4 separate regions of the Homo sapiens genome follow, and regions 2, 3 and 4 are each linked to region 1. The links come from fine-mapping of genetic effects on gene expression. A gene starts in region 1. Each other region holds a variant in brackets. All regions are shown on one strand. Distances are from middle to middle.

What was found. PIP is the estimated chance that this variant, and not a neighbour inherited with it, causes the effect.
Region 2: its variant is fine-mapped to the expression of TMEM255B in blood mononuclear cells (TOPMed, PIP 0.97).
Region 3: its variant is fine-mapped to the expression of TMEM255B in iPS cells (HipSci, PIP 0.95).
Region 4: its variant is fine-mapped to the expression of TMEM255B in monocytes after triphosphate RNA (Kim-Hellmuth 2017, PIP 0.95).

The regions. Positions count from the first base shown.
Region 1 is chr13:113,754,964-113,762,892 of GRCh38, reverse strand. It overlaps TMEM255B (transmembrane protein 255B), which reads right to left and starts at 3,667. Exons shown (of 9, transcript NM_182614.4): 1 at 3,578-3,667. The coding sequence starts at 3,623. RefSeq lists enhancers at 2,948-3,449, 4,006-4,507.
Region 2 is chr13:113,822,096-113,830,024 of GRCh38, reverse strand. GAS6 (growth arrest specific 6) reads left to right here. Exons shown (of 15, transcript NM_000820.4): 11 at 1,314-1,478; 12 at 2,861-3,029; 13 at 6,475-6,650; 14 at 7,839-7,929. The region is part of intron 1 of GAS6-AS1 (GAS6 antisense RNA 1); the gene reads right to left. Among named protein-coding and RNA genes, the nearest start is that of GAS6-AS1, 10 kb to the right of the region's middle. RefSeq lists an enhancer at 7,785-7,929. The variant G/CG (reference allele first, on the strand shown) is at 4,208.
Region 3 is chr13:113,796,649-113,804,577 of GRCh38, reverse strand. TMEM255B (transmembrane protein 255B) reads right to left here. Exons shown (of 9, transcript NM_182614.4): 5 at 5,159-5,239; 6 at 3,666-3,751; 7 at 2,766-2,925. Among named protein-coding and RNA genes, the nearest start is that of GAS6-AS1, 15 kb to the left of the region's middle. RefSeq lists enhancers at 280-838, 2,544-3,418. The variant C/A (reference allele first, on the strand shown) is at 4,481.
Region 4 is chr13:113,806,855-113,814,783 of GRCh38, reverse strand. TMEM255B (transmembrane protein 255B) reads right to left here. Exons shown (of 9, transcript NM_182614.4): 9 at 1-3,048. The coding sequence ends at 2,881. Among named protein-coding and RNA genes, the nearest start is that of GAS6-AS1, 4.8 kb to the left of the region's middle. The variant A/G (reference allele first, on the strand shown) is at 3,788.

The DNA of each region.
Region 1 (7,929 bases):
CTTAATTAAATGCACTGCATGCATATAATATTATGCTCAAAATAGTTAACCAGATGACTCAGCGTCTGCTTCGACCCACAGGTAGAACCTTCCGTGGGGCTCCTGTCCCAGCCTCCTGTGGGCGTCCGTCTGTCAGGAACCCTGTGACTGGATTCTGGTTCTTAAAGCTGGAAGCTCTGCTCGGTTCCTTGGCATGAAGAGTGGGGGCCCAGCAAGACCCACTGGGCTAACTGACCTTGTCAAGTCAATCGGTAACATGCTGACTTGTTAATTACTATGCGAAGAGTTAGACACATCTCCTCTGAAACCACGTAAATCCTCCTACAAACCATTTTCAACCTAACTTTGCTATGTTTACCCCTCTTTCCTGAGTCTAACTTCCCCCCCATCTGCTACAAAATAAAAAGCAGAAGGTATGAGCCACCCTTTTATCAGCATTCCTATCACAGATTCCTAGATTATACAAGTCTAGAAAGACAGTAGAACTTACATGGGGCACTGGGAGCAATGGTTGCAAATCATCTCATTCAATTACACAATGGTGATATTTTGACTCCAGATATAATAGAGATAACAAAAAGAAGACTCCCAACCTTAAACACATTCTATAAATACATGACACAGCATAAAAATGAGAAAAAAAATAAACTCAAGAAAAGAAGGTGGGATATCTTTATAATTAGCATAAGAGATAATTATAAGGTCAGATTTTCAAGAGAAAGGGGCTTTCACTTAGGAGAAAGATAATTAAAATCACCTGAATAATTTCCTTGATTTTTTTTTTTTTCCTGTCCCGGAAATACTGTTATTACACGCACTGTGAAAATTAAAGTGCTCCTAAGTGCCCCAACTATTAATTAAAATATCTACCAATAGGTTTCTATTGCAGAGGCAGCTTACAGGGACTGGACCCAAACCATTCTGGGTCTGTCCAGACCCATTGTGTGGTCTTGGGCGGCCATTTAATCTCCCTGAGCCTGGGAGAAGAGAACCCTATGAGAGCCAAGAGCTCTGTCTCTTGTTTGTCGCCGGTTCCCGGGGCTCAGATGAGGACATAGACACATCTCCTGGTACGGAATGAATGAAGGCACTTCAGTCTCCTGACCTGTAGGATGGAAATCATGAGAACCACCTGCTCACCCACCTCTTGAGATTGTGATAAGCGTCCAGTGAGACACGATACGTGGGCTCTCATATAGGTTTTTGTAAATGGAATGCATATGCTAATCATCAGGGTGGTGTGAACTTTAAGACGGCGTAGCGGCTATTCTTAACCAGCATTTCTCCCACTGGAGTTGCAAGGAGGAGTTCTGAGATGTGAAGCTGAAGGGGCCAACAGCTACCTCTCTGCTATCAAGTGCGCTGATTTTTCTAATTCTAGTCTTCCCCAGGTGCAGCCCATCTAGGATATCTCAGAATATCACCTTGTCACTCCCCACCAGCCCCCACTTCTCCCATCCCACCTGCTCTCCCCTTCCTGGCTCCTTCCCCAGCCTTAGCTGGAGGAGCTGAACCACATGAGCCTGTGCCCACGCCAGGTCCTACCTGGAAGACACGCGAGGCTGGAGGTCAGGTTCTTCCTGCCCCTCAGACCCATTTCCTCTACTCCACAGAGCCAGGAAGGGGAATGTCACAAAGCATGGGAGGTGGCACTGCTTGGAAGGGTTCTAAGATCCGGCCTTCCTGCCAGCCGGACCTGGAACGCCCAAAAAGAAGAGTGAGTTCCATTTAATCATGTGGGGACACCAGTCATGGTGTCCAAGTAACAATCCCAGGTAAAACTGTAATCACTCAGCCGTCAATTCCTCTTTCGTCCTGATTTTACACATGCCCAGGGTAGTGAACAAAGAAGGGCAAAGCAGAAAAACCCATAATCCTACCCCCAGGTACCCCAAAGCAGAAAGACTATGGTCCACCCCCAGATACCCCAAAGCAGAAAAACCCACAATCTACCTCCAGACACACCAAAGCAGAAAGACCATAACCCACCCCCAGACACACCAAAGCAGAAAGACCATAATCCACCCCCAGGCACACCAAAGCAGAAAGACCATAATCCACCCCCAGATACCCCAAAGCAGAAAGACCATAACCCACCCCCGATACCCCAAAGCAGAAAGACCATAATCCACCCCCAGACACACCAAAGCAGAAAGACCATAATCCACCCCCAGATACCCCAAAGCAGAAAGACCATAATCCACCCCCAGATACCCCAAAGCAGAAAGACCATAACCCACCCCCAGATACCCCAAAGCAGAAAGACCATAATCCACCCCGACACACCAAAGCAGAAAGACCATAATCCAACCCCAGACACACCAATGCTTTATACATTTTAGTAAAAGACCAGCTCCAAACAAAAAGACCCATAATCCTACCCAGATACACCAATGTTTCATATACTAAAAAGACCAGCTCCAAGTATTGTTTTAAGGTTTAAAGTTCTTTGTCAGAAGAAAATCTAAGTCAGATGCTATTTTTAAACATTAAGGCATTCTAATAATGATAAAACTAGTTAATAAATAATAATAATAGTTATCATTATTAAACACCAATAGACTAATCCACATTAATACATTTGACCATAGAGCATTTTGCTTTAGATTGGAAGGCATATAGTGGTTTCTTTTAGAAAGAAGCCAAATTATTTGATTATTTTAAGTAACAGTAATTCGTCCGGTTCCGAACGATGCCGCAGTAAAAGGGTTGTGAGGTTAATCCCCAGAAGTTTGTGTTGGATTATTTCTGAGGGAGCGGCAGAGCCCCCTAGACACCACTCCATCCCTCCCTCCAGCCGTCAGGGCTTCACTTTCTAGGGAACTCTGTTTCTCTTTTGTTCTGAAATCTGCCCAGCCCTCTCCCCCTCAGGAAGACACCCGGCATCCTTCCAGTCCTGGCCACTTCCCGGCAGAGCCCCCGAGCCCGGCTTGCGAACTGGTGAACACGCAACAGGTTTCCTGTTTTCCCAGCCTTTGCCTGGCTCCGAGGCTGCAGCGGGCTTGGTCTGGGAAGTGGAAGAATTGGAGATTCCGTGAACACACCGGGGAGAAACACGAGAGAGGGGCGAGCCGAAACCAAGCAACACTGTCCAGTTCTGTGAGCGCCTCTGCACGTTCAAACAGGAAAAGGCTACCTCGCTCTTCCAAACGAAGTTTTCCCGGAAAATGGTGTAGGTTGGAATAAACGGAAGAGATGGGGAAGGAGCGCACTTTGGGGCGCCTGTTCCTCATAATAAAACGTAACAGGGAGAGAGAGGCCAAGAGGAACGGACACAGAGTCAGAGAAAGGCAAAGACTGAGGAGGCAGAGACAGAAAGAGCGAGAGAGACAGAGACAGAGACAGAGAGAGAGACAGGGAGAGAGAATGAATGAACGAACCGGTAGGACGAACGCCCGACCCCAGTGCGAAATGCAAAGTGTTCCAAAGACAGAGCTCGAAGGAGGCGGAGGGACCAGACCCCGTGCCGCGTCTCCGCGCAGGTTCCGCCCGGGCCGGCCGGGGACCTGTAGTCCCAGCCCCGGGGTCCCCACGCTCCCCCGCAGGAGCCGAGACGAGCCCCCAGCCCCGCGCTCACCTGCGGGGTCCAGCAGGCCCAGGGGCCCGGGCACCGGCGGCTGCATCCCGAGGCCCCACCCGGCTCTCCCGGGGCCACAGCCACAGTCCCGCCGCCAGGAGCCGCCCTCGCGGCGCCGCCCCTTCCCCGCCCCCTGCACCTCCCCGCGCTCCGCCCGCCTCGCGTCCTTCCTCGCTCTACTCTCCCTTCTCCGGCGTTTCTTCTCCTCCCTCCCCCGCTGCGCCCGCTCCCCCTTCTCCCCTCCAGCGGCCGCCTGGTTTCTGGAAATCAGGACGCCGCGGCCGGGAGTGGAAGCCAGACCCCAGATGGAAGGTGCCTGGAGAGGACCCTGCGGACTCGGGGTCGGAGCCCCGGCCTGGGACGGTGACCCCGGGCCTTCCGCCGCTGGCGCCACGCTCAGCCCTTGGCGGTGCCGCTGAGTGGGTCACCACGGGTTCGCCTCCCCATTGGCCGGTGACGGAGCTCCTTGGGGCTACAGGGCCAGCCAGCCCTTGATCTCTGGGTTCAGAGGGTGGTACATGGTGTTACAACCCAGTCTGCGAGGAACGAGTAAATGAGGAACAAACGCAAATGAGTAAATGAGGAACAAACGCATCTGGCACCTCACTCAGCAGCCCCGAGGCAGGGCTGACCCGCCTCTCCAAGGCCTGCGTCTTTGTGTCCACAGCACTGAAGTTGTTCTGAGTAAAATCTGCTGCTGGAAAGAAGGGCAAGGAAACACGGGGCCAGAAAGGGTGCCTCGTACAGCAGCAGGAAAAAATAAAGATCCTTCTAAACGTATTTTTAACATCTTTGAGTCAAGGACATCAGCGGTCCCGTCACAAAAGAAGATGCTTGAACGATCAATAAACTCAGCCCCCGGAATTAGGGGAACGCTGTGGGAACAAGAGGATGCGTTTCACCCTCATCCTATCAGAAAACCCCAAGGGTCAAACAACTTAAAGAATGTTAATGAAAACGTGGGAATCTGCATTCACCGCTGGGATCACGCATGGTGCCACCACTTTGAAAGCAACCTTTAGGAAAATTGAAGCAAGTAGATGACAAGCCAGAAAGAAAGCATATCTCTTTCTAGATATGCCCAAGAACACAAACATAGATCTGCTCCTTCGAGCCAGGAGCCGTGGTTCTCAACCCCGGCTGTCGTTAAAGTCATCCAGGAATGTCTTTAAAAGAAAAAACATTTCTGCAGCACTGAACCCAGACCAGATCAATTGAACCAGAACTTCTGGGAACAAACTAATAGCTAAGAATTCCCTAGTCATTCTAATAGGCCATCCACTGTGAGAGAGAAACTACCACAAGAAGTATGCATGTGCTAGAAGATGCGTACAGAATATTCCTCACAACACTGTGTGTCCAAAGCACCGGACACACCCTGAATATCCAACACGGGGAGAAGCGATAAAGAAATGGGCATATACAGCGAAATACCACATGGCAGTTAAAATAAATGAGAGCTACATGGATCAATGTGGATAAATGCCAAAAACAGAACGCGGAGCAAAAATGCAAGTGCACAGTACGGCAGCGAGTACGACAGCAAGTACGGCAGCGAGTATGGTACCATTTATATAAAGTTTTAAACCATGAAAATTAACACTGTTCACTCAGTGAGCCTCTCAAGACTTACTAAACATCCGCGATATACCAGACACTGTTCCAGGTACTTGGGATGTATCAATGAGCAACGTAAACAAGGATCCTGGTGGGGAAGTGAGGCCATGAATAATAATACAATAAACAAGAAAAATGCACAGCATGTCAGAGGGCAACATGCTATGGAATACACACACACATATACACATACACACATGCAGACATACACACATGCATGCACATACACACATACACACACATGCATATATACACATGCATACATACACACATGCATGCATGTGTGCATACATACATGCACGCATACATACATGCACATACACACATGCATACATGTGTGCATACATACACGCACACATACATACACATACATACACACATGCATACATACACACTTATACGTGCATACATGCACATATGCACATATACATACACACATGCATGCATACACACATGCACACACATACACATGCACACATACATGCACACACATGCACATACACACACATACACACTTATACATACACACACATACACACATACATACATACACAGCCAGGTAATGCAGGCCACAGAAAAAGGAAAGAGAGGTAAAGAAACAAAATAGAAAGTATAGTGTGGGAGAGGGAGGGAGCTGTGGTTTTTAAGTAGTGAAAAGAGAGCTTGTTGACAGGTGATGTTGAAGACCAAGCTTGAGGGCGTGGAGGTGGTTGCTCACCCAGACATCTGGGGCAGAGGGTCTGAGGAAAAGGAACCTCCATGCAAAGGCCCTGGGGTGGAGCCATCCAGGCCCAGGGGGAGCAGCAAGGAGACCAGGGTGCCAGAGGCTTGTGGGGACCAGGTGGAGGACATCAGGGGTGAGCCGCAGGGCCTCTGGCCTTTGCTCCGAGTGATGTGGGGGTTATTGGAGGGTCCTACACATAGGATTACTGGAGAGTAGTTGTAGGATAGCAGAATGGAAGCTGAGAAACTGGTTATAGGATATGATGAAACAGTAGGAGGTGATTACACGGACACCATGAGTCATGTTTGCAGATACACGGACACCGTGAGTCCTGTGTGCAGATACACGGACACCGTGAGTCCTGTGTGCAGATACACGGACACGTTGAGTCATGTGTGCAGATACACGGACGTGAGTCTCGTGTGCAGATACATGGACACCGTCTCGTGTGTGCAGATACATGGACACCGTGACTCATGTGTGCAGATACACGGACGTGAGTCTCGTGTGCAGATACATGGACACCGCCTTGTGTGTGCAGATACATGGACACCATGAGTCATGTGTGTGCAGATACATGGACACCGTGAGTCATGTGTGTAGATGCATGGATACTGTGTAAGTAAAGTAGAAGAACATGCTGGGGGAGAGTGCATGCTTCATCCAGAACTGTGATTCTCTGTCTGGGTGGACAAGCTGAACAGCTTTGGAACTATGTCTAGGGGCTTAAACTCTATTTGTGAAATCTTCTTTCTTTAAAAAAGTTAAAAGACTTGTAAAAAAAGGGGGAATGTTGAGATACCATTAAGGCTAGATGGTGTGGACAGGGATGTTATATTATTCTCTATACTTTTCTGGATGTTTAAAATAGATGATTACTTTTTTGTAACTTTTTATTTTTATCTATTTTCAAACCTAAAGGTGGTTTGCAGGGATAGTGCAAGGAGCTCCTGTGCATCCTCTACCCAGGTGTGCCTTTGTTTGCAGTCTGTCACTTTTTTGTTTTTTGAGACATGCTGTGGCTCTGTGGCCCAGGCTGGAGTGCAGTGGCATGATCATAGCTTACTGCAGTCTCCACCTCCCAGGCTCAAGCGATCCTCTCACCTCAGCCTCCCAAGTAGCTAGGACCACAGGCGTGTGCTGCAACACCCAGCTAAGGTTTATACTTTTTGTAGAGATGGGGTTTCCTCATGTTGCCCAGGCTGATGTCAAACCCCTGGGCTCAAGTGATCCTCCCATCTGGGCCTCCCAAAGTGCTGGGATTACAGACGAGAGCTACTGTGCCCGGCCACAGTCTGTTATATTTTAAAAATTAAATGGACGAAAGGAAAAGAAAAGGAGGAAAAAGGGCGCCTGCTTGGCTCTGCAGGCCGAGTCCCACCCTAAGCCGCCAGGGTGCCCAACCTCTTCCACCACTGAGAGCAGCCCAGGGATTTCCATGTTTGTCTCATTCCACCAGGCTCAGGGAATGCCTTTTTAAAGAGGAGAAAAAGCGCCTGCCTGGCATGGGGAATGTGCAGGGGCCAACTGGAGCACAGCCAACTCAGAACTTCTTCAGGGGCTCCCTGAGCAGGCCCCACCTGCCTCCTCTCCCCAGGCCTGCACCTCGGAAGTGGCTGGAACCCACAGCCAGCACCTGTCCTTCCTTCCCGCCAGCACCACCTTCCTTCTCTACTCACTCAGAGATACCGGGGTTCCCCATGACTGGTTCATCCTCCCCTCACCCCTAACTTTCCGTGGTCCTCAGATCTCTAACCCATTCCTGCAACATCCAGTGAGGTAGGGAAGCAACAGCGCTGGCTCCGAGAGCCAGGGTCAGGGCCAGGGGCTGACTCCCACACTGTCCTGTCCTGAGCATTGTCCAGGCCCAGAGCAGGGCTGGGCTTGGCGCTGGGCTGTGGAAGCACAGGAGTGATCACTGACCTGGGGCCCTGATGGAGCTCAGAGGCTGATGGAGAAGAGACAGAAAGACTGAGCCCTCCCAGGTGATGCCACCGTGTTAAGCTCAGCG
Region 2 (7,929 bases), 67 kb before region 1:
GGGACTCTCTGAGGTTGGGACCCTCTTGGCTCAGGTGTGGATCAGGTGGTCTCCTTGAGGTCAGGTCCCTCTTGGCTCAGGTGAGGATCAGGTGGTCTCCCTGAGATTGGGACCTTCTTGGCTCAGGTGTGGATCAGGGGGTCTCCCTGAGATTGGGACCCTCTTGGCTCAGGTGAGGATCAGGTGGTCTCCCCGAGGTCAGGTCCCTCTTGGCCCAGGTGAGGATCAGGTGGCCTCCCTGAGATTGGGACCCTCTTGGCCCAGGTGAGGATCAGGTGGACTCCCTGAGGTCAGGTCCCTCTTGGCCCAGGTGAGGATCAGGTGGACTCCCTGAGGTCAGGTCCCTCTTGGCCCAGGTGAGGATCAGATGGTCTCCTTGAGATCAGGTCCCTCATGGCTCAGGTGAGGATCAGGTGGTCTCTCTGAGGTTGGGACCCTCTTGGCTCAGGTGTGGATCAGGTGGTCTCTCTGAAGTTGGGACCCTCTTGGCCCAGGTGAGGATCAGGTGGTCTCCCCGGGTCAGGTCCCTCTTGGCCCAGGTGAGGATCATGTGGTCTCCCTGAGATTGAGACCCTCTTGGCCCAGGTGAGGATCAGGTGGTGTCCCTGAGATTGGGACCTTCTTGGCTCAGGTGTGGATCAGGTGGTCTCCCTGAGGTCAGGTCCCTCTTGGCCAGGTGAGGATCAGGTGGTCTCCCTGAGATTGGGACCCTCTTCGCCCAGGTGAGGATCAGGTGGCCTCCCTGAGATTGGGACCCTCTTGGCCCAGGTGAGGATCATGTGGTCTGCCTGAGATTGAGACCCTCTTGGCCCAGGTGAGGATCAGGTGGTCTCCCTGAGATCGGGACCCTCTTGGCTCAGGGGAGGATCAGGTGGTCTCCCTGAGGTCGGGACCCTCTTGGCCCAGGTGAGGATCAGGTGGCCTCCCTGAGATCGGGACCCTCTTGGCCCAGGTGAGGATCATGTGGTCTGCCTGAGATTGAGACCCTCTTGGCCCAGGTGAGGATCAGGTGGTCTCCCTGAGATCGGGACCCTCTTGGCTCAGGGGAGGATCAGGTGGTCTCCCTGAGGTCGGGACCCTCTTGGCTCAGGGGAGGATCAGGTGGTCTCCCTGAGATCGGGACCCTCTTGGCTCAGGGGAGGATCAGGTGGTCTCCCTGAGGTTGGGACCCTCTTGGCCCAGGTGAGGATCAGGTGGCCTCCCCGAGGTCGGGACCCTCTTGGCTCAGGAGAGGATGAGTGTGGTTTTTCTCAGTTGGGAGCCCCTTCAGAACGTGCACTCCCATCTTTTCTCATGGCGCTGCCTCTCTTCAGATCTCTGTTGAGGAGCTGGCGCGGAATCTGGTCATCAAGGTCAACAGGGATGCTGTCATGAAAATCGCGGTGGCCGGGGACTTGTTCCAACCGGAGCGAGGACTGTATCATCTGAACCTGACCGTGGGAGGTATTCCCTTCCATGAGAAGGACCTCGTGCAGCCTGTGAGTACTGTACCTGTCCCTGTGTAGACGCGCCGTGTGCTGGGATCCCGGGAACGGTGTCAGGAAGCCTCAGTCACACCCTGCCCTGTGTTTACCATTAACCAGGTGTGAGGAGGACCTAGAGGAAGGAAAGGTTTCCTAGAGTTTGACAAAGTCGCCGTACAGCTATGTCATTAATTTTACCATCTCTTTTTATGAGACCTAAGTTTTCATCTGAATTGATAATAAAGTTGTCTATTTTTCAATGGAGATAAGACACAATTAAATTATTATTATTTTTTTTGAGACGGAGTCTTGCTCTGTTGCCCAGGCTGGAGTGCAGTGGCGCGATCTCGGCTCACTGCAAGCTCCGCCTCCCGGGTTCACGCCATTCTCCTGCCTCAGCCTCCCAGGCAGCTGGGACTACAGGCGCCCGCCACCACGTCCGGCTAATTTTTTTGTATTTTTAGTAGAGACGGGGTTTCGCCGTGGTCTCGATCTTCTGACCTCGTGAACTGCCCACCTCGGCCTCCCAAAGTGCTGGGATTACAGGCGTGAGCCACCGCGCCCGGCCGAAATTATTCTTTAACAGAACAGTAAACTTTTTTGGACAATTTCCAAGAACATTTTGGGTTTTGTAACTCTGCCGTGAGTCTCATAAGGGGAAAACAGCCATGATGGGCGGTCAGTGTGGGCCATTGCTCCAGGTCCCGCCTTCTCTCCCCTTCAGCACAGCACACGCCCGTGCCCCCGACCTGTGTCTCCAGCCCCCACGTGCTGACGTCTAAGCCGTCATCCTGGGTATTTTCACTTCCACACCAGGCAGGAGAAAGGCACGCATGTCTTCGCGTCTTTGGGTGCTGAGTGTCGGCAGTGCCTGTGCTGAAGCCACCCCTTCAGTGTTGTGAGGGGCACCTGCTCCCCAGGCCCACAGACTGCCTGGTGCCGGGACCTTCGGTGTTGTGAGGGGCACCTGCTTCCCAGGCCCACAGACAGCCTGGTGCCGGGACTTTGCCTGGCTGGACCCTCCTCGTTTCACAGATAAGGGGGTTGCCCTGATTTGCCCACAGCCATATTGAATATTGAATAATTCACATGAGTGTTGGATGGTTGAACAATCCATACTCTTTGACCTTAGACCCACATGGCCTTTTCAGTCCTTTCCTAGCTTTAAAATGAACCTTTAGTTCTTGAGCATACACCAGTGGAAATAGGTATTCTGCAGTGAGGCGTTGTGTAAAGTGAAGAAACCTTCTGTGAAATGGCCACCACCGATGGGACTGGCCCGTTTCTGCCGTAGAGCTGCACATACCAGGGCCGCGAAGGCGCCACCCACCGACTGGGGCATCCGGCATGGGGCTTCTCGCTCCCAGGAAGCCACGGAGATTTCTCTGCCTTTCCAGATAAACCCTCGTCTGGATGGCTGCATGAGGAGCTGGAACTGGCTGAACGGAGAAGACACCACCATCCAGGAAACGGTGAAAGTGAACACGAGGATGCAGTGCTTCTCGGTGACGGAGAGAGGCTCTTTCTACCCCGGGAGCGGCTTCGCCTTCTACAGCCTGGACTACAGTAAGTCTTGGCTCTTACCGTTGGGGTGGCTGTGGCTGCACCTTCAGACAGGCATACGCTGAAAGCAAGCAGACGGCCTCAGATGGCAGCGTCAGGACAAGCTGAGGCTCCTCCGGTTCCGGGGCAGGGATGGGTGGGCGGGGTGGGCGGAGGTGCGGGCAGAGGCCCACCTCTCAGGATGGCCATGCAGGTCACTCAGTTCAGAGTCAGCCAGTGAAGAAGAAATGAGAGAGATGTGCCGAGAAGGTGCCTGCGAAGCCAGTGCCAGGAGGCCGGGGAGAGAAGGTGCCTGCGAGGCCGGCGCCAGGAGGCGGGGGAGAGAAGGTGCCTGCGAGGCCGGCGCCAGGAGGCCGGGGAGAGAAGGTGCCTGCGAGGCCGGCGCCGGGAGGCCGGGGAGAGAAGGTGCCTGCGAGGCCAGCGCCGGGAGGCCGGGGAGAGAAGGTGCCTGCGAGGCCGGCGCCGGGAGGCCGGGGAGAGAAGGTGCCTGCGAGGCCGGCGCCGGGAGGCCGGGGAGAGAAGGTGCCTGCGAGGCCGGCGCCGGGAGGCTGGGGAGAGAAGGTGCCTGCGAGGCCAGCGCCGGGAGGCCGGGGAGAGAAGGTGCCTGCGAGGCCGGGGAGGCTGGGAGCCTTACAGGGTCCTTTGCAGAAAGTCCGGAGACAGCACAGCCTTAGGACTCGTCCAGGGGCACAGAGAAGCTCTCGGTAACATGGTGGACACCGTGGTCACCGATGACCCGGTGAGACAGCTACAATGGGAGGTGTGTAAAAACAGCCGTGAAGCTGCCTGGGGGACAGTGAACCTAGGCCTGAAAAAGGGAGGACAGGGTGGATGTGAGCTGCTGGCCCAGTCCTGTGACGCCACGCTGCCGCCCTCCCCAGTGCAGGCTCCGGGGGTGCTGCTGTGAGGATAGTGTTACTGCTCGGCCCCACCCTGCCTCACATTCCCACCCCACGTGGGCCCCACTGGGGCACCACAGCCCTGCCCTATTCCTGGACACCGAGCCGTTTATGGTGAAGCCCCCACACGCACAGAGGGCAGGCAGCGCCCCCTCCGTCAGATCTCAGGGCTGCCGGCCCTCAAGCACCCAGCAGGAACCCCAGGTTCAAGGGGATCCACGCGGAGCAAAGGGGAGGGTCCTGCCCCGTCCTGAGCCAGATCCAGTGTCACCGTCTCCCCCC[G/CG]GGTGTCAAAAGCGTGACCGTGTCAGGAAAGGCATCTGAGAAAAGCGCCATCTGCCACTGGCTGGACTGACTGTGCACACGCGTTCTCCCTCAGTCTTGATTTTTGGACTTCCAAATCTAGAGCATCATAATGTTTGACACGAAATCATGTCATATGAAATGCTTAAATCCTTTTTCCACTTAATATCATACACATTTCTCAGGGGTAACCTTATGCAGGCATCACAGGGGCCATTTCCAGTGACTGCCGGCCGCGTCTGCCGGCCCTTTTTGGTCTATCCGGACAGAAGCAGTTACAGCTCCATGCATTTCCAGTGAATCTCAAACTATACCAGTAACGTCTCTTACAAGACAGAGGAGACTTGCTGGGAATGGTAGTACTGGCCTGGCTCACTCTGCAGCGACTCTGCTGGGCTCAGGCTTGCAGATCTCCGGGTCTGTGCAGCCTCCATGCAAGGGGCCACGTGGAGCCGGGAAACCTTCCCGGGGAGAGCAGAGGCCGGTGCCCTTGTGAAGCCCCGATGGCCAACATGTGCCTAGCCTCCTGTCAGGAGCTTCCTTTTTTTTTTTTTTTTTTTTTTTTGAGACGGAGTTTCGCCTTTGTTGCCCACACTGGAGTACAATGGCACGATCTTGGCTCCACCTCCCAGGTTCATACCACAACCTCCGCCTCCCAGGTTCAAGCGATTCTCCTGCCTCAGCCTCCCGAGTAGATGGGATTACAGGCATGCACCACCACACCCAGCTAATTTTGCATTTTTAGTAGAGATGGGGTTTCTCCATGTTGGTCAGGTTGGTCTCGAACTCCCGACCTTAGGTGATCCACCCACCTCAGCCTCCCAAATTGCTAGGATTACAGGCGTGAGCCACCACGCCCGACTGGGAGCTTCCATTTTAAAGAACACCATCATCTCTCCCTTCACAGGTTATGGGAAGACCGGCAAACAGGAGACTTTTTGTTGTTACTTTTTGATTCTGTTGCAATATTTTTGTTACTTTTTCTGATTTTGTGTGTTTCGGTGCCATAAATGGTTGTTGAGAACTGATGTGGCGGGTACCAGCTAGGGACAGGCAGGACAGGCGATGTGGGTTTCAGGCGTACACAGCCCCGTGGGAAAGAGACAGGGAAACCAGCACAATTCACTCTGACCCCAACCTTGGCCTGCAGTGCGAGGCGCCCAGTCACAAATGTGTACACACAGTGATTTGGGGTCCTTTTTCCTAAAACAGCTTCTTTATCAGGACTTTGGAATTCTGGGTGAGATAGAAACACTGAAAACAGGGCGGAAGTTTTTTCTTCTGGCTTCTTAGTCCACGGAGGGCTCAGCGTGGAGAGGATATGCCGTGGCATTCTCCCTGGGAGACCACACATGTTCCCGACAGCTCAGACCCCAGACCGCATGTGCTCCTGACAGCTCAGACCCCAGACCGCGCGTGCTCCTGACAGCTCAGACCCCAGACCGCAGGTGCTCCCGACAGCTCAGACCCCAGACCGCGGGTGCTCCTGACAGCTCAGACCCCAGACCGCGCGTGCTCCCGACAGCTCAGACCCCAGACCGCGGGTGCTCCTGACAGCTCAGACCCCAGACCGCGCGTGCTCCCGACAGCTCAGACCCCAGACCGCGGGTGCTCCTGACAGCTCAGACCCCAGACCACGCGTGCTCCCGACAGCTCAGACCCCAGACCACGGTGCTCCTGACAGCTCAGAACTCAGACCGCGGGTGCTCCTGACAGCTCAGACCCCAGACCGCGCGTGCTCCTGACAGCTCAGACCCCAGACCACCGTGCTCATGACAGCTCCTGTCCGCATGCTATCTTAAACTCTCAGCCCCCACTGGGCCCTGTGCTGCTACCTGAAAGCTGCAGGTGAGATGCGAGGCACGAGGCCACGCACGCTCTGAGGAAGGAGCTGTCAGGCGCTCCTGAAACAAGAGGACATCGGAGGGAGGCAGGGACAGGCCTGCGTCCCATGGTGCACAGCCTGTGGCCCCTCAGACGGGCCTGTGTGGCCTGGTGGTCACCTACAGGGCATTTGGAAGTGGGGTACTGGTGTGGCCAGGGAGAAACAGCCTGGGGGTCCCCGGTGCCTCTGGGCTCCGGGCCAAGATCTGAACCAGTCTGTTGAGTTTTCCATCACGTCCCAGATCCGGGGCTGTCTGCACAGCTTCCCACCCCGGCTGGGACTGCATCTCTCGAGGCCCTGCTCCGACCTCACTGTGGCCTCTCCACCGTGCATACCACCCTATAATGCACCGCTTTCATTGCAGTGCGGACCCCTCTGGACGTCGGGACTGAATCAACCTGGGAAGTAGAAGTCGTGGCTCACATCCGCCCAGCCGCAGACACAGGCGTGCTGTTTGCGCTCTGGGCCCCCGACCTCCGTGCCGTGCCTCTCTCTGTGGCACTGGTAGACTATCACTCCACGAAGAAACTCAAGAAGCAGGTAGGGCCTCCGCCACCCAGGGCGTCCTGACCGGCTCGACCCACGGGTACGTGGGCTGCACTCCCTGGCAGGGGACGAAGGGGGCCCGCGGTGGGATCCCCAGGGACCCCCAAAGCCTCTGACCAGAGGTCTGATGAGCCAAGCCCGGCGTGGGCCACGCTTCGGGCTGCGGGGGTTGTTTGGACACCAGGTCACCGCCACACAGCTGAGGGGGCCGGCGCCTGCGAGCCACACTCGGCTCACAGTGTGGGAGCTTTTCCCCTGTTCGGTTGGGCAGATGGTGGCTCACAGCAATCTGAATTAGTCTCTGGTGTTTAAGTCAGATGATTTCAGCAACAAACTCAGTTTTCCAATTTCCCTGGAAAAGTCGGATCTGTGACCTTGGCCGGTCCCCCAACAGCGTCTTTCCGTGGGGGACACCGGGTGGAGCTGAGTGCAGCTGCCCCTTGGACAAGGTCCCCCCACCCCCGGTCCTCACAATAAGTCAGCTGTCCTGGGCTGGGGGACTCATGCTGTTTTCCCCACAGAACAATCAAGAGGTGACAGAAACAGCTTTTATTCTCTCGCTCGTGTGCTAAGGAGGGAGACATGGGTCAAACCAGAGAGGCTCACGTTCTCCAAGTCTGCCCACCCCGGGGCCACAGAGCCCTCCCGCTTGCTGGGATACGACAGACAGGCTTGGTTCATGCAAATGCTCGTTACCAGGGCCAGACCCAATCTCAGCATCTGGAATAAACAGCTGCTGTTATGTAGCAACAGCCGACCCCTGGGCTGCTGGGCTGTGGTGCCAGCGTGAGTGCCCACCGGGCTGGGAGGCCGCCACCGCAGGGCTGGGTCCTGGGTCCCCATCAGGGCCACCCCAGTTCCTGGTCAAGTGCAGCCTCGGTCTTGTGTGTGCCTGGTGCCTGGGGCTGGGGTTGACCCTCTCACACCCAACCTGGGGGCCACACTTGTTCCCCCACAGCCTCCCAGGCTGGCCCCTGGCTTTACGTGCAGAGAAGCTGAGCCCCAGGTGGGGTGGGGGTGTCATCCACAGTCAGCGAGCATCCAGACCCAGGGCTGCAGGGAACCCTGGACGGAGACAGGCGTGCGGCGTAGGGGTGGCCAGCAGCTGTGAGGACCAGCTTGGACCTAACAGCTCACGTAGGGGTGGCCGGCAGGCCCTGACCACACCTCGGTCTCCTGCAGCTGGTGGTCCTGGCCGTGGAGCATACGGCCTTGGCCCTAATGGAGATCAAGGTCTGCGACGGCCAAGAGCACGTGGTCACCGTCTCGCTGA
Region 3 (7,929 bases), 42 kb before region 1:
AACCCCGGCCCGGCGTAGCTTTACACTGAGGTTCTCTACATCTTGGTCCCAGGGCCCCGCCACCTGCTAGTCACACTGGGTGACCGCTCGGCTCGGGCTCTCTTTTACTTTTTTGATTTTTTGGGGGGGGAGAAAAAAGCACTGGTTTCCTTCTCTCCGGGCCCCAAAGTCTGCTTTTTCGGCACAGAAGGGTGCAGGTGGGGAGGGCCCTCTCAGCACCGGGCTGATGGCTCTCGCTTCCCCAAGCCTGTGCCCCAACCAGCGTGGGGTTTCTGGGGAATGCGAACAAAACCAAAGTCTCCTGAGCTCCCGTCCACACTTTCACTGACTCACTCAGGCAGTTAAAATTCTCCAAAGAAGGTGCTGGCTCCAACTCAGGCCCCGGCCGGCCTCATCCCCTACAGAGGGAGGGGCCCATGGCTCACACAAGCTTCAGGGCTTCCCCGGGCCAGAAACGCGGGGACTGGGCCGAGGGCACCCGGGCTTCGCCTCCCTCCCCACCTTCACACAGGTGCCCCTCCACCTTCCCCAGCCCCCACCCCCAGGTTCAGCAGCACCCTGGAGGAAGCCAGGGGAAGATGGCAAAGGCGGGGAAGCCAGGCCAGAGCCGCTGCGAGGGGCTGGCCACGGTGACGACCCGGGGACACGGTGACAACCCGGGGACACGGTGAAAACCCCGGGACAGGGTGATGACCCCAGGCCTGAGGTGTCCTCAGACAACGGTGCTGCCCGCACCCCTGGGGCTGGGAGGGAGCCCCCTGCCCAGCGGGCACTGGAAGGTGGGAAGGGGCAGGGCCTTCTGGGCAGCTGGTCCTTGGTCCACATGTGCAGGAGGCCGTGCTTCTGCCTCAGACCCTGCAGAGAGCAGGGGGGCAGCCGAGGTGGGCCTGGGAGGTTGGATGGGCATGGAGGGTCGTGCTCCGTGAGGGAGGGGCAGGAGATTTGCAGTTCTGACAGGTAGAGGGGTGGGGAGGCCTCTGAGCTGGCGGTGGCCTGAGGATGGGGCCGGGGCGAGTGCACAGAAAGCAGAGAACACGGGGGCCACGGAGTCACACGCGGAGGAGGCCCCTGAGAGGCTGGCTCAGCCGCCCGCCCTTGCCGGCACGTTAAGTGCCTCCCACGCACCCATCACAAGTAATTTGCCCTCGTCTACGAAGGGCACGTCCAGCTTGGAATGTTAAGGAATGAAGGAAGCATCTTCATTCCTTAACAAAATGTTTAAATGGCAAAATCAGTTAAACTCACAAGAGGGCCTGCTTGGTGGGTGTGAAGGTTAGCAAGTCCTCTCCTTGCTCTGCAGCCCTGAGCTTTGGGTTCGAGGAAGACTTCCTGGAGCCGGTGTGGCTCTGCATTGCGGGCTGGCCCTGGAGGTATCACCTGTTCCTGATCCTGCACTCCAGCATTTTATCACGGGCTTTAATGAACACACGAGCCCCTTCCGGAAAACCCTGGACACCCCGGGCCTGTGTGGCGAGCATGGCGCCTGCACCAGACAAGCGTTTCTGTGTCCTGTCTACAATCCGGCTGCAGTTCCTCCTGGGACGGCCGCTGAGAGGAGACACTGAGCTGCCGAGGCAGAGAAGCTTGCACCGAGGAGACGCCAAAGGCGCCCGGAGCCCGCGAGATCCCGGCAGAGACCCTTCCCGACCCCAGACTCCCGCTCCCACCGCAGGGGCCGGCCGGCTGTCACCACAGAGCAAGGACCCCTGGGAGGTGCCTGTCTTGTGTTGGTGTGCGGGCGTCTGGGGGCCCAGGGTGGGGCTTGGGGGGCCACTGGGTGGGGAGCCAGAGGGCTGGACCTCGGGATGCCAGGGTCACTCTCAGCTTCACCAGTTTTGTCTGGAAGCACAAAAGTGTTGAGAAAAGGAGGAGCTGAGAAGCAGATGGCAGGAGGGTTCCCAGCTGAGCTAATTTTTAGTCATGGACAGCCTCTGGGACGAATAGGGCATGGAGAAGCCGCTCAGGAGTGTTTTCGCTGCCTCGCTGGGCCGGGTCTGGCCTGCATGATGTGCGTCTGCCTGGTGCTGCCAGGCCTCCTCATGTGGGTGCAAGAGGGGGCGCCCCTCGTCCCTGGGCTGCCGTTTGGATACTCTGGGGGTTGGGGCTCCCTCACTCCTGGCTGCCCATCCCTTACAGCTTCTCTGCAAGTTCAGGGGGCGGGGTTTGCTGGCCGCACACCACGAGAACATCTGGTTTGAAACAGGCGCCAGGAGAGGGCAGAGGAGGGAGAAGAGAGAGGACATCCGGCCCGGGCCAGTGATTTCCCTGTGGTTTCCCGGGCGAGGGCCGGCCTTTCCAGGATGGGTCCAGCCCACCTCCCGCGAGGGGCCCCTTCCCTCCCTCCTCCTGCCCAGGCCAATCCTGGCTGTATGGGTCTCGCCTCTGGGGTTTGCTAAGGCATCAGCTCAGCCCCAGCCCAGACCTGCCCATCTGAAGCCCCAGGCAGTTGCTAATGATGGGAGCTTAGTGCACAAGGGCTGGGCCTCCCTCTTGGAGCTGAACATTGTTTCTTGGGGACGGCTGTGCCCACCTCAGCGGGGAGGCAAGGATTAAATCAGGTGATTCTTGTGACAGGCTTGGGACAGGACGGCCCCGAGGTGAGTCGGTGCACGCCAGCTGTCACCCTGACACCCTGCTGACAGACGCATGGGCTTCAGTGCCCCATCTGTAAAGTGAGGGCTGGAGGCCCCCCAGCCCACCCCGGGGAAATGGACCCGGAGCCCCGGCTCCCAGTGAGCAGCGGGGGTCCCACCAAGGGGCCTCACCATGTCCTTGAAGGCCCCCAGGACGGCGGCGGTGATGATGCCCAGGAACAGGCCCAGGACGTTCAGAACTGCAGAGGCCCAGAGCAGGCGGTACAGGTGCAGCACGTCCTGGCAGCCGCTGACGCCGATGAACTCATAGTAGGCGGGCGAGGGCTCTGCGCTGCACAGAGAGGGCACCATGGCGTCACCGCACGAGGCAAGTGACCACCCGCAAGTTAAACTTGTGTCCTCTGGACCTGAGCCCTGCAGGGCTGGGGGAGGAAATCAGGGCTGGAGCCCAGTCAACGCCCATCCCTGCACTGCTCTGGGAGATCAAACCTATGTCTGATGGGATTGGCCTGTGAGGCTCCCCACCTGGGGCCCACAGTGGCAAAGAGCGGCAACTGGGCCTGGCGGGCCCGCCCCTCCGCCTCGATGGCCTGGCAGGACGGGTGTCTGGGCCCCGGCTGAGCCATCTCTGTCTTCACGCCAGGATGGGAAGGCCGTCGGGGTCACGGGCCCCTGTCCCAAGAGGGGGCCATGCCTGGGGCCTCAGAGGCCAGGCCAGGTTTAAACTCTCGCCCGACACACACGGGCTGTGTCCTCTTGGGCAGATCAACATTTCAGAGCCTCTGTCTTTTCATCTGTGAAATGGACTCAATGTCCTTTCCTCATGTAAACATCTAAGGAGTAAAGGAGACGATGTAGGTGCAGGGGTGTGGGGGGGGTGATGTCAGGAGCAGAAGGATGGAGGCCTCACCCCTGCAGGCACATACGGGGGTTCCCAGCGCCCCTCACCTCCCTCAGGTGTAGATATAGGGGTCCCCAGCGCCCCTCACCTCCCGCAGGTGTAGATACGGGGGTCCCCAGCGCCCCTCACCTCCCGCAGGTGTAGATATGGGGGTCCCCGGTGCCCCTCACCTCCCGCAGGCATAGAGGTCACAGCAGTAACAGGTGTTGCTTCTCACCTTCAGCTGGCACTTGCCGTCCAGGGAGTGACAGGTGACCTGGGGCAGAGAGGCCTTGTCAGGTCACATGCCGGTGCCCACCACCTCACCCACCCCACCAAGGGCAGGGCTGCCTCATGGGAGCTGGGAGCGGCCACTGAGGCCCAGCCAAGCAGCTGCCTCCCCCGACTTTCCCCCGACTCCAGACACAGAGGCTTGGGGGCTCGGGGGCCAGGACCCTTCCTGCAGGAGGGGTCAGGGGCACAGGCTGGTCCCAGAGGCCGGATAATCGGGGCTCAGAGGAGAGGCCTTGCTTCTCCATGATCCCAGGAGCAGAGGGAAATATCAGGGTGCGTGGGCAGAAGGACAGAGCCCAGGAGGCCTTCGGCGTGGGGTGCACAGAAGCCTGAGAGCCCGGAGGGCGGCAGAACAGGCCCCGTCCCAGGGCGCTCTCCCCCCAGGCTTGAGCACTGGCAGCCTCAGAAGAGACACCTGCCACCTCTGTGTGACAACCTTGAAAGCCCTGGCCAGGGGACACCCCCCAACACACACACACACACACACACACACACACACACACACACAGAGGACGCCTCCCCTGACACACACACACAGGACACCTCCACACACACACACACAGGATGCCTCCCCCCCACATACACACATGGCATGCCTCCCGCCTACCCCCCCCCACACACACACACAGGACACCTCCACACACACATACACATACACACACAGGACACCTCCCCCCTAAACACACACGGGACGCCTCCTGCCTACCCCCCC[C/A]CACACACACACACATAAACACACACACACACACGATGCCTCCCGGCAGCTGCTGGAGAGTCCCAGACAAGCTGGCAGGTGCTGGCCACTGAGAGGGCCTCCAGCTCCTCCTCCTCTGACACGCGTGCTGAGGATGAGAGGCTGCGTTTAGTTAAAGCCAGGAATCCACACAGGGCAGGTGCGAGACACACAGAGAGCGCCGTCACAGAGCTGTGCCCTCCGACGGTCCTGGCGAAGGCGGCGGCCGCCCGCGGGTCATTACTCCCCGCATCTCACTCACCTGGAAAGAGAAATGAGGTCACACTGCCGCTGTCGGTGGCTCAGGGAAATCCAGAAGTTTCTCGGACACTGTAAATGTATTATCCTTGCTTCTTATTGCAATAATTAAATTAGAAAAATGCTAATTGGAAGAGCCATACAGAACTGGACACGTGCACTCTGAGACTGTTGTGATTTAATGAAGCAAGTCCAGAACTCTGACTCCAGAGTGAAATACAGCACATCGAAATGTCAAGGTCCCAAACACAGGGGGCATCAACGGTTCACCAGCTGCAGGGGTGACCCCCAGGAACTATTAGAATCAAAATATTCAGACCACGCCTATGTGCAGGGAAAACCGCGTGGGGTCGGCGGGGTTAGCTGAGCAAAACCCACATGAATCTCAGTGCTCCTGCTCACCTCTGTCTGGTAGACATCGTACAAGTACCCCACCCCACTGGAGTAAAACTGGCATCTTCCCGTGGTGAGGGGCCTCGGTTCCTAGAGAAACAGATAAACACAGATGGAATAAAACAGGTGCCTCCAGGCGGGAGAGGCCAGAGGCAATTTCAGGCCTGTGGGTCTCAGGCTCAGGGCCTCAAGGACCAAGGCCAACACCAACTTGAGCCTCCCAGACACAGAACACAAGATGGGAGACTCCACGCTCCCTGCAGAGCAGCTGGGCTGCTGCATCCAGGAGGCCAGACAGCAGAAAGCCCCATGGGAGGGTACCTCGGGCCATGCATATTCTCCATCAGTCAACAAGGGCAGCAGAAGGGAGACAGGTGCTTGGCCTTTTGAGGGGCATCCCTACCACCCCACATCACAGGTGTTAGGCTCCTGCATCGTTTCATAAAAGAAAATATTGTCTCTTCTACTAGGAAGGTAGCAAGAAGGATTTCAGACCAATAAACTCATCCCTCCAACCATCCAATCATCCACCCACCCACCCAACCATCCATCCAATCATCCAATCAATCATCTGTGCATCCACCCATTCTTCCTTCCATCCTCTACATCTATCTATTCATTCATCCATAATGCATCCATCATCCATCCTTCCATTCATCCACATCCATCCATCCACCCATCTGTCATCCATACTTCATCCATCCATCCATCCATCCATGTATCCATCCATCCTTCCATCCATCCACCCATCATCCATCCATTATCCATCCTTCCATTCATCCACATCCATCCATCCACCCATCTGTCATCCATCCTTCCATCCATCCATCCATCATCCATTATCCCTCCTTCTATGTATCCATCCATCATCCATCCTTCTATCCATCCACATCCATCATCCATCCTTCCATTCATCCACATCCATCCATCCAACCATCATCCAACCATCCATCCATCATCCATCCATTATCCATCCTTCGATTCATCCACATCCACCCATCCATTCATCTGTCATCCATCCTTTTGTCCATCCATCATCCATCATCCATCCATTATCCATCCTTCTATTCATCCACATCCATCCATTCACCCATCTGTCATCCATACTTCCATCCTTCCATCTGTCCACCATCCATCCATCATCCGTTATCCATCCTCCTATCTATCCATCCATCATCCATCCTTCTATCCATCCACATCCATCACCCATCCTTCCATTCATCCACATCCATCCATCCATCCATCATCCATCCTTCTATCCATCCATCCATCATCCATACTTCCATTCATCCACATCCACCCATCCATCCATTCCTGTCATCCACCCATTATCCATCCTTCTATCCATCCATCCAACCATTCAGCCATACACCCATTTGTGGCCCTATCCAACTATCAATCCATCCGACCATCTGCAACATTCATGGAGCAGACACAGTGCCAAATGGTAAGGATAACGAGACACAGTTCTTGCCCTTAAGGGATTTATAGACTAGTGAAGAAGACAGACCCATAAACTGACCATTGCAAAGTGCTTATAATTGCTATGGTAGAGGACAGCAGGAAGTACCAAAACTAAAATGCCACAAAACTGCATCACCTGCAAATAAGCTAGGGTCACATTGCCCACGTTTAGTTTTATTAGTATTTCTCAAAGGCTCCTAGTTCTGAACCAAGAAAAGTATTAGAAACCACTAGTAACACTGCAACAGATGAGAATGAGAATCACTCATCGGTCCTTTGGGCCCCCACTGGTGAAGTACTATTATGGCCGGATGCGTTCTAGGTGACACAGCAATGGAGGAAGCAGACACAAGTCTCTGTCTCTGGGTGTTTATCTTCCCCTGAGGGGACAGACATGAGACCACAGGTAACAATGAGTAGCCCAAGGGGACAGAGGCTCCTTCCTGGAGAGAGGGCAGTGCACCCCAACCCCACGGACAGAGGCTCCTGCTGGGAGGGAGGGCGGTGTGCCGGAACCCCATGGGGACAGAGGCCTAGCAGCACGGTGTCCTCGGCCTCTCTCAACAGTTGGAAGGCACGCATCTCCCCATATGACGCCCTTAGAGCTGTAATTCACCATCTGTCTTCTTCCTCAGCAGCACACGAGGCAGTGCCACATTTTCCTCGATGGCATCTGAGCTCCAGTGAGTGCTGTCTGCGCATCCGTCCTAAAGTCAGCCCTGGGAGGCCCCGGCCAGGGGCCCTGCTTTGTTTCTAACCAAGAGGCTCCCACACTTGCCTAGATGCATGCCCCGCGTGGCCCTCCAGAATGGACAGGCGCCCGAGGTCCGGAACCTGGGGACACCCCCGACTGCGGTCAGAGACTGGACCCTGCTCCTCGGCGGGGCCACGGCCACGGGCGCCTGGAGCACAGTGGAAACCACCGTCTGGAAGCCATAGAATAGCAAGTCACCCAGCCACCCGCTGAGAAAGCTCCCATGACGCACCTCCGTGGGAGTGTGTGTGTGCGCGCGAGTGTGAGCATGTGGGCCGTGGTGTGTGCATGCGTGCGCACGCACGTGTGTTTTGTGAATGTGCTCCCACACTTGCCTTCATATAATGAAACCGTTGGGGCAGACAAAGGCCTAACACCAACCTTCAGTGCCTTTCAGTGTGATTTATGGAAAAAGAGGGAGAAACAATCACAGGTTTGGTCTGAGAGTTCATGACAAGCAATTCGGCTGCTCCCGGGGACCAGCTGACGCCCAGATGGCGAGAGCCCACCCAGGAGCCCAGCCAGGGAGGAGGGGGGATGGCGCAGCCCACCGGAGGCTGAG
Region 4 (7,929 bases), 52 kb before region 1:
TGAGGGCGGGATTGGGAGCCCATCCCTGCAGAGGAGGCTGGGATCAGAAGGCCCCAGCGGAGCCCAGAGAGGGGGTTCATCAGACCGTGACTCAGGCTGGCAGAGCTTGGTGGCCCCAGACAGGATCCGTCCACATGAGACAGGTGCACCTCGAGAGCAGCCGCCGCCCACACTGCAGGCCAGGCATTGGCCGGAGCCCTGCGCCAGGTGGGAGCTGCCCTGGGACCTGGGGGACCCTCCAGCCACCACGAACCTTGAGTCAAATTGTTCACATTCTTTGTGGCTGGGATAAAGGATAAGGACATTTTTGTGGCAAGAACAAAACTGTTGACCTTGGAGTTGAATATTTTTGAACAGCTTTTGACTCTAGACAAGATTAAAAGTCGGGAAAGATCGATGTTGTGTTTGGGGGAAGCTGGTGAGTGCAGCCTCGGGGAAGCACTCTGATGCCCCCACACCGCACCCTGCGACCGAGGGCTGACATGAGGGGAAGGAGGGTTATTCCTGTGACTTTGCTGGCCAGAGCTCCAGGGGGCATAGACTCCCTGCCCAGACCTGCAGTTCAGCTTCTCTGCTGTTCGCACCCCTAGGACACCAAGAGGTGCTGGTGCCTGCACCAGGCAGCTTCGGGGGCACAGCCCGAGCTCCAGGGTGCCCAGGAACCGCCCACACAAGACCACGGCACCATCGGCGCCCATAGAGCCTTCCCTGAGGTAAAGTGAGAGCCCTGGGGACTCGGGAAATCCGTGGCACACTTTTCTTCCCCCACAGGCGCTCGTGAGTGCATCTCCCGGCGCTCCAGAAACCTCTTGGTCTCTGCTGCTTGTTCAGCTTCTTACTCGGAGCCAGGCACCCACAGCCCTGGAGGAACTGGGCGGTGATTTCCAGACAGGACGCCGCACCTCCGGCTCGTGCCCGACCTCCCGGACTGGTTCAAGGCCAGTCAGCCCTGAGAGGCCAAGACCACATTCTCCTGGACAGCAAGCTTGTGAGGCTGGATTTTATAAGATAAAAATGACAAGCAGTGGCGGGTTCACAGACCAGAGCTGGCTGCAGGCCTTTCAGAGGCCCGTTAGGGCCCCTGGGCCCAGCCAGCCACCGTTCATGTGTGGATGTGCGCTGTGGGCCTTCTGCCCAGGAGCGCTGGACACAGGATGAGACCCTCCGTCGGGCAGAGGGAGGCTCCCGGGCAGCGGAGGGGGCAGAGGCTGTGTGAGACCCTCCATCGGACAGAGGGAGGCTCCCGGGCAGCAGAGGGGGCAGGAGGCTGTGTCTGCACGAGTGTGGCTCCCCTCCACCTTATCTTTTTTCTCCCAGATCCAGGACTGGGCAGGGGAGAAAGTCCCCGCTCCACCTCCCAGGTGGGCACTGTTCCGTGAAGTAAGCTGGAGACCTCAGACCCACACGGGAGAAGAGCGGTACTTGTTTATCGTAGGCACGGGGGGCTTTGCAGGGAGGGACGTGAGGCCCTGAGAGCGGTGAGGCCTGGAGGCGCCAGCTTCCGAGGGGAGAGGGAGTGACTGGGGAACCGTGAGCGGCCCACAGAGCAGAGACGGCGACTTGGTGTCTTGTGGCACGTCTGGGGAGCAATGGGATCACCTCTCGCCCGCCCTCCCGCCCTGGGAGTCCCTGGTTCCCTGAGGATCTGACTTCAGGAGTTCAGAGAAAGCCTCTCCCCACATCCAACACTTTTCAAGAGACTTCGGCTACTTTGGGGTGGCGCATCCTGAACTCCTGTCACTGGGGCGCCTGTGACCCACCCGGGACCCGTGACCCACTCGGGACCCGTGACCCACCCGGGACCCGTGACCCACCCGGGGCCCGTGACCCACCCGGGACCCGTGACCCACCCGGGACCCGTGACTCACCCGGGGCCTGTGACTCACCCGGGGCCTGTGACCCACTCGGGACCTGTGACCCACCCGGGATGCCTGTGACCCACCCGGGACCTGTGACCCACTCAGGACCTGTGACCCACCTGAGACCTGTCCTGTGACCCACCCGGGGCCTGTGACCCACCCGGGACCTGCTGCTTCCCAGGCGTGCTCACCCGTCTCCCCAGGTGTGCCCGGCAGGTGCATGCTGGGCCCGCGGGGAGCTAAGCTGGTTTCCACAGGGAGTGCTGCGGCCCCAGACCCTGAGCCAAAGGACCCCGAAACACCGTCCCCCACCATCCCAGCGGCCAGGGGTCCTGAGACAAGGTGCGGTGAGGGAGAAGCCGCGGAAGGACAGCGGAAGCCCAGGCGCCGTAGCTGGGAGACAGCTCAGGGGAAGACCCTCGTGCCAGTGGCCCAGGCAGATTTGCATCCGGGGCTGGGAAAGACAACCGGGCCCCTGGATTCTAACAACTCACAGGCGGTTAGACACAGCGCTGGGCGTTGGAGCCGAAGCGTCCTTCCCTTCCTGGCATACGTCAGGAGCACAGCACGAGGGGCGGGTGGCTTCTGCCCTGCGCTTCTCCAGGACACAGATGCACACACGAACGTGTAACGCACAACACATGTCCACAAACAAGAACACACAGGCAGGGAGGCCGGGGCTGCACTGTCTTTGCAAAATCATAATAATAGCTAATTAATTAAGGGATGTGAAAACACCAGAACAATTGCTCTCAGAGGAGGAGGCCGGGTGGGAACTTTCAGCGCCATTTGATGTGAGCAGAGCCCAAGCCAAGGTGTCACCAGCCTGGGTCTGGAGGGCCCCACTCCCTGCCTGGTTCCAGCCTCCCTCACCAGTGTGCCCAGGGAGGAAAGGAGGGGACAGACTTCTGGAACATTCTCCCGGGTTCTCTAGGAGGTTGGCCACAGAAGCGGGATTTCTAGAGGCTGCCTTTTTTTTAAAAAAAAAAACAAACAAGTTATCTTTTACTCCACGCCTCTATCAGGGTGCGTAGGGGGGTGGCTTCTCCCCCGGGGGAAAGTAGGTGGGTGCGTAGCACGGTGGAGCCTGGCCGGGAAGCCCAGAGCCAGAGCTGCTTGGAGAAGGGGGCTGCAGGTCCTCAGACGAAGCCAGGGCAGAGGAGGGCGCAACTGGGAAGCGGCTGCAGGGCTGCAATAAACAGAGAGGGCCCTGGGTTAGCAGGTGAGACCACCCCGTGCCGGACCACAGGGAAGCCTGACATATACCAGGGCCACTCACACGCTCCCCACCCACCCCGCCAACCCAGGGCCACCCGCAGACTCAGGGCCATTCACATGGGCCCCCCGCAGACCCAGGGCTATTCACACAGGCCCCCTCAGACCTAGGGCCACTCACACAGGGCCCCCCGCAGACCCAGGGCTATTCACACGGGCCCCCCACAGACCCAGGGCTATTCACACGGGCTCCCACAGACCCAGGGCCACTCTCACGCCCCTCCCCTCCCCCGGAGACCCAGGGCCACTCTTACGTCCCCCTCCCCCACCGCAGACCCAGGACCTCTCTCACCGGCCCCCACCCCACAGACCCAGGACCACTCTCACCGGCCCCCCCACAGGCCCAGGCCCACTCTCACGGGCCCCCACAGACCCAGGACCACTGTCACGGGCCCCCACCCCACAGACCCAGGACCTCTCTCACCGGCCCCCCCCACAGATCCAGGACCTCTCTCACTGGCCCCCACCCCACAGACCCAGGACCACTCTCACGGGCCCCCACCCCACAGACCCAGGGCCACCAGAAGGAGCAGCCCCAGCCCGGGGCAGAACAGGAGAGGGTGGCCGGGGCCTCACTGGCACAACCTTGGCCTCCACAGCTGCATGGGGCAGGGGGTGGACGCCCCAGGAAGGGTGTCCTCAGACCACATCCC[A/G]CTTCCTCACAGCCAGCGAGCCTCTGACCTGACTCCAAAACCAACAGTTAGGGTCCACCAGGCCTGGGGCCCCTGGGCTCACCCAACTCTTCATATTTGGGAAAGGCCCCACGTATGAACCCCACACGTCCACACGTCCAGCAGCGTGTGGCTGGTTCAGTGTCACCGTGGCTGACTCAGCGGCTCACACACGCATCTGGGTGTTGCCGTGGAGGCATCTTCAGGTGTGATTGACACCCTTGCGTACAGTGCCTCAGCCCCTGGACACGGACGGCCCCTCCTCTCCACTGAAGGCGTTAAGGAAAGAGGCTGTGGTCCCCAGGAGAAGTGGACTCTGCCCCAGTGGCCTAGGCACTCCCGGGGCAGCGTCACCCTCCCTGGTCTCCAGCCTGCCCCCTCCCTGTGGTTGTGCACCTGAAGCCCACAGTCATCAGCCAGTCATTCAGAATCGATGGATTGATCTCTCTCTTCATATGTAGGTACCTGTATTCTCCCATAGGCTCTGCTTCCCTAGAGAGCCCTGACTAACACACATAGACCCACCCAAGTAATTCTGAGACCAGAAAAGCGAAGAACGGCACAGATTTTAAATTGATACATTCTAGTTTTTCTCCAACTGCTAACACACATCTTAATTCTTTTCTTTTTTTCCCCTTAAATTCTAGGGGGAACTTCTAATCAAATTTTAAATAAATAAAGCAAACAAACTCCTTCTAAGAAATAACACAGGAAGAGTTTTTCAAACTCCAAGCTACCAGATGTGCTCTGTGCTCCTCTTGCCCCAGCCTGCAGGGTCCCATGAGAAGCCAGCTGCCTGTCTGAGCCTGCGTGTTCAGCATCCCCAGAGAAGCCAGCTGCCTGTCTGAGCCTCTCCCTGGAGAGCTCTGCACTGCAGACGCCCTGGGAGCTAGCAGGACCTCTGGATCCTGACAGCAGAATTTCTGCACAGGTGTAGGTAAGGCTGAGAATGGGGCCCTTCCTCAGAGGGACTGCAATGTTGAGGTTGACAGCCCAGGCTCATGGGATCCAGTGGTTCAGGGACACCTGCCAACCTCATTTCTTTCTTCCCCCGAAACTCACACAGGTTTCTGGCCACAGGCGACAGAGTGAGACACTAGGGAACATTCTCTCAAGTCTGCTGGGAGCTCCCAACTTCCAACTCTGTAGCACCCACTCTTCTTCACAGCAGATGAGCAGTTAAGGAAACTAAGGGGTAAACCCCAGGACCACAGATAAACCCCAGGAACCCATGGAGTAACTCCCTAGGAACCACCGAGTGAACCATGGAGTAAAACTCAGGAACCACGGAGTAAACCCCCAGGAACCACGGAGTAAAACTCAGGAACCACGGAGTAAACCCCCAGGAACCATGGAGTAAACTCTCAGGAACCACGGAGTAAACCCCTCCCCCCAGGAACCACAGAGTAACCCCTCCCCCCAGGAACCACAGAGTTAAACCCCCGGGAACCATGGAGTAAACCCCCAGGAACCACAGAGTAAACCCCCAGGAACCAGAGTTAAACCCCCAGGAACCACAGAGTAAACCCCCAGGAACCACAGCATAAATCCCCAAGAACCATGGAGTAAACATCCAGGAACCACAGAGTAAACTCCCAGGAACCACAGAGTAACCCCTCCCCCCAGGAACCACAGAGTTAAACCCCCGGGAACCATGGAGTAAACCCCCAGGAACCACAGAGTAAACCCCCAGGAACCAGAGTTAAACCCCCAGGAACCACAGAGTAAACCCCCAGGAACCACAGCATAAATCCCCAAGAACCATGGAGTAAACCCCCAGGACCATGGAGTAAACATCCAGGAACCACAGAGTAAACTCCCAGGAACCACAGAGTAACCCCTCCCCCCAGGAACCACAGAGTTAAGCCCCCGGGAACCATGGAGTAAACCCCCAGGAACCACAGAGTAAACCCCCAGGAAACACAGCATAACCTCCCCCCAAAAACCACAGAGTAAACCCCGAGGAACCATGGAGTAAAGCCCCAGGAACCAGAGTAATCTCCCCAGGAACCACAGAGGTAAACCCCCAGAAACCACAGCATAAATCCCCAAGAACCACAGAGTAAACCCCCAGGAACCATGGAGCAAACCCCCAGGAACCACAGCATAAATCCCCAAGAACCAAGGAGTAAACCCCCAGGAACCACGGAGTAAACCCCCAGGAAACATGGAGTAACCCCCCCCCCAGGAACCACAGAGTTACACCGCCAGAAACCACAGAGTTAAACCCCAAAGAACCACGGAGTAAACCCCCAGGAACCACAGAACAAACCCCTAGGAGCCACGAAGTAAACCCCCAGTAACCACAGAGTTAAACCCTCAGGAATCACAGAGTAACCACCCAGGAACCACGGAATAAATACCCCTGGAACCATGGAGTAAACTCCCAGGAACCACGGAGTAAACACCCCAGGAACCATGGAGTAAACCCCCCAGGACCACAAAGTAAACCCCCAGGAACATGGAGTAAACCGCCAGGAACCATGGAATAAACCCCCAGGAACCACAGAGTAAACCCTGGGACCACGGGGTTAACCACTGAATGACAGGGCCCCCCTAGGGACAAGCCCTGCCCACGAGTAATCTCACAGGGGAAGGGAGGGCATGTTTCTTAGTAACGGGGCAGGAACTCATCTTCTGCTGTGATGCCACGTCCTCCCCTGCACTTCATGCCTGGCAAAGCTGCTGGGTGCAAGGAAGGTGATCTCTTTAAATTGTCCTTTTTATTAACTGCTCAAAACCTCCCCCACCAAGTCACTGTTCCCCATCCCCCACTGTCTCAAGTGGGAGTATTTTCTGCTGCTAACGACTTCCATGGAACACCCTGAATATTTTCTCTCCATCTCTGTGGAAGCAGGGCCCCTCCTCCATTGTTCTTCTGAGGAGCACATGAGCCTCATCTGATTTGCCATCTCTGAAATCCAATTATCAGCGTGCGTATATTAAGCTCCCACACATGCTGGCCTGGCACAAAGGCTGGCTGGGCCATCTGAGGGCCCCAGGCCTCCCCAGAGGAAGAGGGGAACATCCACCCTTTGCGTAAACCCAGAGCCCCAGGGTGGATGAGGATGGAGCACCATGGGGATGAAGTGGATCTGCCCCTGTGCCCCCCACGTCCCGTAAGCCCGCGTGTGACGGGGAGGACCACCCCCCACATCCCGTAAGCCCTCCTGTGATAGGGAGGACCGCCCCCCACATCCCGTAAGCCTGCGTGTGACGGGGAGGACTACCCCCCACATCCCATAAGCCCACGTGTGACAGGGAGGACCACCCCCACATCCCGTAAGCCTGCGTGTGACGGGGAGGACCGCCCCCCACATCCCGTAAGCCTGCGTGTGACAGGGAGGACCACCCCCCACATCCCGTAAGCCCACGTGTGACAGGGAGGACCACCCCCACATCCCGTAAGCCTGCGTGTGACGGGGAGGACTACCCCCCACATCCCGTAAGCCTGCGTGTGACAGGGAGGACCACCCTCCACATCCCATAAGCCCGCGTGTGACGGGGAGGACCACCCCCACATCCCGTAAGCCTGCGTGTGACGGGGAGGACCACCCCCCACATCCCGTAAGCCCACGTGTGACAGGGAGGACCACCCCCACATCCCGTAAGCCCTCGTGTGACGGGGAGGACCGCCCCCCACATCCCGTAAGCCTGCGTGTGACAGGGAGGACCACCCTCCACATCCCGTAAGCCTGCGTGTGACGGGAAGGACCACCCCCACATCTTACACCTCCGTGGGGCTCACAGGCAGGGAGGACACACCTGCCTGAGGGAGTCACCAGCCCCTCCCTCCACAAAGCCTCACTGTCTCCAAGGTCCCAAGTCAGAATGCAAACTTGGAGAAGCCGGGCCCCTCACAGCCAGAGCTTCAGACAGCCGGGCCCCAGCACCAGGGCGGCCCAAACCAGCCCTGGAGCCAGAGAAGAGGAAGGGGCTGATGGAACCACGTGTTGTCTCTCCTCTGGGGCCCTGAGGGGCAGCGGCTGAGGTTGAGGATGGAAGACAGCATGGGCCACCGAGGCTATGCTCTGGGCTGCACGTTCTTGGCACCCATGCGATTCCAAGTCTGTGTCTGTGTAGAGCCGCTTGGGGAGCACCTGCAGGCCCAGCGTCCCTGGAGA